Linked DNA regions of Homo sapiens: region 2 is linked to region 1. Evidence: fine-mapped expression QTL. A gene starts in region 1. The other region holds a variant in brackets. All regions are shown on one strand. Distances are from middle to middle. Region 1 holds the start of DNAJC21 (DnaJ heat shock protein family (Hsp40) member C21). Region 2 has its middle 36 kb from the start of DNAJC21.

Evidence for each region. PIP is the estimated chance that this variant, and not a neighbour inherited with it, causes the effect.
Region 2: its variant is fine-mapped to the expression of DNAJC21 in whole blood (INTERVAL, PIP 0.98).

What each region holds. Positions count from the first base shown.
Region 1 is chr5:34,927,984-34,930,894 of GRCh38, forward strand. DNAJC21 (DnaJ heat shock protein family (Hsp40) member C21) reads left to right here and starts at 1,576. Exons shown (of 12, transcript NM_001012339.3): 1 at 1,576-1,933. The coding sequence starts at 1,837. LOC124900961 (a long non-coding RNA gene) reads right to left here and starts at 1,698. Exons shown (of 2, transcript XR_007058731.1): 1 at 1,666-1,698; 2 at 1-1,150. RefSeq lists silencers at 1,252-1,721, 1,732-1,801, 1,832-2,031 and enhancers at 2,060-2,705, 2,172-2,341.
Region 2 is chr5:34,963,645-34,966,555 of GRCh38, forward strand. No RefSeq gene overlaps it. Among named protein-coding and RNA genes, the nearest start is that of DNAJC21, 36 kb to the left of the region's middle. The variant G/A (reference allele first, on the strand shown) is at 1,516.

The sequences.
Region 1 (2,911 bases):
GAAGGGATCCTCCTGCCTCGGCTTCCCAAAGTGCTGGGATTACAGGCATGAGCCACCACGCCTGGTCAAGATGTTCCTTTAGACTGAAATTTATATCCAGCATAGTTACCTTTAATTATACAATGTTACAGGCAAAAATCCTTCTTACTTCAGAAGGTAAAAGAAGTAAGTGATTCCTACAGGCTGTATCCAAAACCAAATCAAGTTGGAGGGAGAAAATACTCCAAATTAAGTTGGAGGGAAAAAAATACTTTCCCTTTCCGTTTTTTTTTTTTTTTTTGTCCCTCCCTTCCCCCCGCCCACCATCCCAATTCTGTTCTCAGGAGGGGAAAGGTTTCATTCTCCCCCAAACTCAGACTTCTCAATCCTTATCCATTACCAATTTACCAACTAACTGAGACTGTGTAGAATCTTCCTCTGGAAAAAAGGGAAGTGTATGAATTCTGAGTAGTGAGTTGGTTGGTCAGTGGCGTGTGAAGTAACCTGATGAAGCTTAGCGTGGGTTTTTTATTTTACTGGGGGCAGCATATTGGGGAAGAGAAGGATAACCTTACTAAACCGCTTGGGTACGCCAACCCTGTGCAATAGATATTAGCAACATAGCTAACCATACATGGTTAGTAAATACAACCCACACCTAACTGATGCATGTAAACATTCCACATTACAGTGAAATATATTGGTGTATTAATGCATTTTAATAATTATGGTATTATTTTGATACCTTTCAAAGTGTTTGGAATAATTGTGCAGATAGTCAGATCAACCAAAACCTACCAGTTAAATACTATCCTTTAACTGCTTTCTTAACCTAAACCAATCTTGGAAAGGTAGGATTAGAGGCCAGAAAGTTAGGATTAAAGTGTGTTGGATGGATAGATCAGCACAATTTCATCCATGTTGGTGGTAAGGCTTTTCATTAAGTGTGTTGATGCTTCCCTTTTAAATTGTTTCCGCTTAAATAATCTAACTGTCCTTTCTCAAGCATATTGGTCAAGATGATCAATACCAGATATCTTAAGTGGCAGCTGAAGAGAATTAAAGAGATTAAAAAAAAAACCTGATATTCAGTCCAACCGAATTCTGCTACTGTATTAGCTGAGGAGGCTTGAGCCAACCACTTGACCACTTGGAGTCTGAATCGCCTTATCTATAAAAACGGGGATCCATTGAGAAATTATAATCAGATATTTTCCAGAATCCTCTCCCATCCCAGCTCCTATCTCCCCCTTCAGCCCTCAGGTCGGCTGCCACTCACACTGACCGCCATCTGTGCCCCTCACAATGACACCAGCGTGGCCCTGCCTCCCTTCCGCGCGGCCCCGCCTCTCGCCCCGCCGAGGCCCCGCCTCTCACACCAAGGTCCCGCCTTCCTCCTGTTCTTCCCGGCCAAGGCCTACCTTCCTCCCACGCGGCCCGCCTCTTTCCCCGCCAAGCTCCCGCCTTTCTCCTGCGCGGCCCGCCTCTCTCCTCGCCAAGGCCCCGCCTTCCTTCCTCGGGGCCTCGCCTCTCACCCCGCCGAGGCCCCACCCCCTCCCGCGCGGCCCTTTCCGGCACAGAGCCCACCCCTAGCCCATGCGAAGCGGCGGCCGCCGGCACCGCCCCCGCCGCGCTCCCGCTTGCCGCAGCCTGCGTCGTCTGCCGCCACCGCGCGCCTTCACTGACCTACACCACCGCCGCCGCCGCCGCCGCCGCCGGGCTCGCTGGCTGGCCCGGTGCGGGCGGCGGACTCCCGCCGGAGAGGACTGCCAGCGCCGCCGCCGCCGCCGCTTCGGCCCGGGCCCGGGCCCCGACCCCGTCCCGGGCCCCAGCGCCGGCCGCCCGCCCGGTCGGGCGATGAAGTGTCACTATGAGGCGCTGGGGGTGCGGCGCGACGCCAGCGAGGAGGAGCTCAAGAAGGCCTATCGGAAGCTGGCCCTGAAATGGCACCCGGGTAAGTACCTGTCCCGCAGCCCCCGCGGCCACTCGGAGAAGCCCGGCCCTCCCCGACCTTCCCTTCCCCCGGGCGGACTCCGCGGAGCCAGCAGAGAGGGACCTGGCGGCCTAGGAGCTCCTTGCCCCGCCCGGCCAGTGCCCGGAGCCGCCCTGCCCGTCTCGGTGGGCGAAGCGCTCTGCCCTGGCGCACCCCGGCTCACACCCCATCTCCTCATACCCGCGACCCCGGCCCCGCATCGCCACTGTAGGGGGAAAACTGCAGTCCAACAACCTCACTTGCTCCCGCTACCGGGTCGCAGACACCACGAGGGAGCAGTCGGGAACTCGGAACTCAGACCTGCCCCAGGCTTGCTTTTCCCTGCGTCCCTTGCAGCGCAGCCTCTCGGTGTTTTTCCTCCGCTGCCCTCCACCTCGTCCGGGAATCCCAGATACTTCAACCTGATGTATGGCTCTTTTCGTTTCTTAGTTAAGAAGTTAAGACACGGGAGCTAGTAAAATATCTTTTCAATAGGGATGCGCTTTTTTCGCTGTTTTTTTTTTCTTTTAATAAGCTGTTTAAGCAGACCTTGTACTTCACTTTGGACATGATTCTGCCGGGGAAGGTTTTAATCAGGCGGCTTCCCCAGTAAAGTTTGTATGTTTACTTAGAAGTATCCTTCCTTTGGATGTTTCATTGGTCTGTAATCCAGGCCTGTGTGACTTTTATGAAGTAATCTGATCTTCCAGGCTGGGAAACTAAGAGAGTAGTTGACTTTCAGCTTTTTGAGGTTCATATGAAGAGGCTTTCATATTAGCATTCATCAGTAAACACGGTTACAGAGTATCCAATATATGCAAGTCACTGCACTCTACTAAGTAGATTTGGAAATGCTGAGACAGGGGTCTTAGAGTCTTGTTAGGAAAACAACTTTCTGCCTTACACAAATGAAAAGTTAAATACAACTGCCAGAAAAAAATCGCAACATACATAATTGGT
Region 2 (2,911 bases), 36 kb after region 1:
CTTCTGTTAATTGTTGGTCCTCTTCAGATAGGGCACAGACAAGATGAATTTTTTTCCTTGCACATTAATGTGAATGGTCTGTTGCTGCAGGCTTCATCTTCAAACTACCTTGTCCTTTCTTAAAATGAATTATCCATTTATAAACTGCTAATTTTGTTGGGGCATTGTCCCCATAAACTTTTTGTAAAACATGAATGATTTTATCATCTTCCACCCAAGCTTTACCGTAAATTTGATGCTTGTTCTTCCTTCAATTTTAGCAGAATTTATATAGCTCTGATAGGCTCTCTTTTCAAACTGATGTCTTATCCTTCTTAGTGCCTCAAACTAGATCCTGTTCTGCTATGTTACAGTAAGTTAGTACAAGTTTTAGTGCAAAAAATTTTGACATCCATGTATAGTTTCCTCACGATATACATTTTTTCATGAATTTTGATTACCCCTTGTGTGGTCTCTTCTGGAAAATGTTCTATTTGTTGATGAGAAAAATGTATATTCTGCAGTTGTTGGGTGAAATGTTCTGTAAATGTTTGTTAGGTTGTTAGATTCATTTGGTCTATAGTAAAGGTTTGTGTGTGTGCTTTTTTTGTTTGTTTGTTTTTTGTTTTGTTTTCTTTTTTGAGACAGGGTCTTACTCTATCACCCAGGCTGAATTGCAGTGGTGCATTCATAGCTCATTGCAGCCTCAACCTCTCAGGCCCAAGTGATCCTCCCACCTCAGCCTCCTGAGTAGCTGGGAACACAGGCATGCACCACCATGCTTGGCTAATTTTACTTTTTGTAGATAAAGGGCCTCCCTGTGTTGCCCAGGTTGGTCTTCAATTCCTGGGCTCAAGTAATTTGCCCTCCTTGGCCTCCCAAAGTGTTGTGATTACAGGTGTGAGCCACCATGCCCAGCCTCTAGTGAAGATTAAGTCCATTTTTGTTGCTAATTTTCTGTCTTGATGATCTTTCAAGTGCTGAAAGTGAGGTGTTGGCTTCTCCAACTATTATTATATTAGAGTCTATATTTTTAGCACTAATAATATTTGTTATATATATTTGGGTGCTTTGGTGTTGGTGCATATATATTTACAATATTATATCCCCTTGCTGAATTGACCCCTTTATCATTATATAATGATATGTGATCATTGATGATCATTGTATATATTATTATATGACATATATAATAATATAACCTTCTTTCTTTTTTTGTTTTTATTTTTTTACTTAAATTCTATATATATTTCTTTTCTTTGTTGAAACAGGGTCTCAGTCTGTTGCCTAGGCTAGAGTGGAGTGGCATGATCATGGCTCACTGCAGCCTTGATTTCCTGGGCCCAAGCAATCTTCCCACCTCAGCCTACTCAGTAGGTGGGACCACAGGCATGTGACACCATGCCTAGCTAGTTTTCTTATTTTTTGTGGAGATGGGATTTCCCTATGTTGCCCAGGCTGGTCTCCAACTCCTGAACTCAAGCAGTCCTCCTGCCTTGGCCTCCTAAATTATTGGGATTATAAGCATGAGCCACT[G/A]CATCCAGCCTTATATTTTCTAATAAAAGTATAGCTCCTCCTGCGTGTTTTTGGTTTCCATTTGTGTGGAATATTTGTTCCATCCCTTCAGTCTATGTGTGTCCTTACAAGTGAAATGAGTTTCTTGTAGGCAGCTTATAGTTAGATCTTGTTTGGTTTGGTTTGGTTTGATTTGATTTTTTTTTTTTGAGACTGAGTCTTGCTCTCTCGCCCAGGCTGGAGTGCAGTAGCGCAATCTAGGTTCACTGCAACCTCTGTCTCCAAGGTTAAAGTGATTCTCATGCCTCAGCCTCCTGAGTAGCTGGGATTACAGATCTGCACCCCCACATATGGATAATTTTGGTATTTTTAGTACAGACAGTGTTTCACTATGTTGGCCAGGCTGGTTTCGAACTCCTGACCTCAAATGATCCATCCGCCTCAGCCTCCAAAAATGCTGGGATTACAGGTGTGAGCCACTGCATCTTGCTGGGAATTGTTTTATTAATTCATTCAGCCAGTCTGTATCTTTTAATTGGGGAATTTAAGCCATTTACATTCAAGGTTGCTATCGACAGGTGAGGACTTACTCCTGACATTTTGTTGATTGTTTTCTGATTGGTGTATTCTTTGTTCTCTTCTTCCTCTTTTATTGTTTACCTTTACAGTTGGTGGATTTCTGTAGTGAATATGTTTGAGTCCTCTTTCTTCCTCATTTTCTTTCTCATCTGTTCTCTCAGTGAGCTTTATACTTTCATGTGTTTTCGCGATAGAAAATGTCCTTTTGCTTCCAAATGTAGGACTTCCTTAAGCATTTCTTTTAAGATCTGTAGTGGTGATAAATTCCCTCAGTTTTTGCTTGTCTGGGAAAGACTATTTCTCCTTCATTTTTGAAGAATAGCTTTTCTAGGGATAGTATTCTTGGTTGGCAGGGTTTTTTTTCTCTTTCATTTGAATATAGTGTCCCATTGTCTCCTAACCTATAAGGTTTCAGCTGAGAAATACACTGTTAGTCTGATGGAAATTCCCTTATATCTGACTTATGTGACTTGATGCTTTTCTCTAGTGGTTTTCGGAGTTCTCTCTTCATCTTTGATTTTTGACAGTTTGATTATAGCATGCATTGGAAAAACATCTTTTTGGATTGAACCTACTTAGAGATCTTTGAGCTTCCTGTATCTGGATGTCTATATTTCTTGCAAGACTTGAGATGTTTTCAGCTATTATTTCATTAAATAGGTTTTCTATGACTTTGTCCATCTCTTCTTCTGGAACTCCTAAAACTTGAATATTTTTATGATTTATAGTATTCCGATATATCACATAGGCTTCATTCTTTTCTCTCTCTTGTTCTCTTTTTTTTTTTTGTCTGAATGAGTTATTTTAAAAGATCTCTTATCAAGTCCAATTTTTTTTC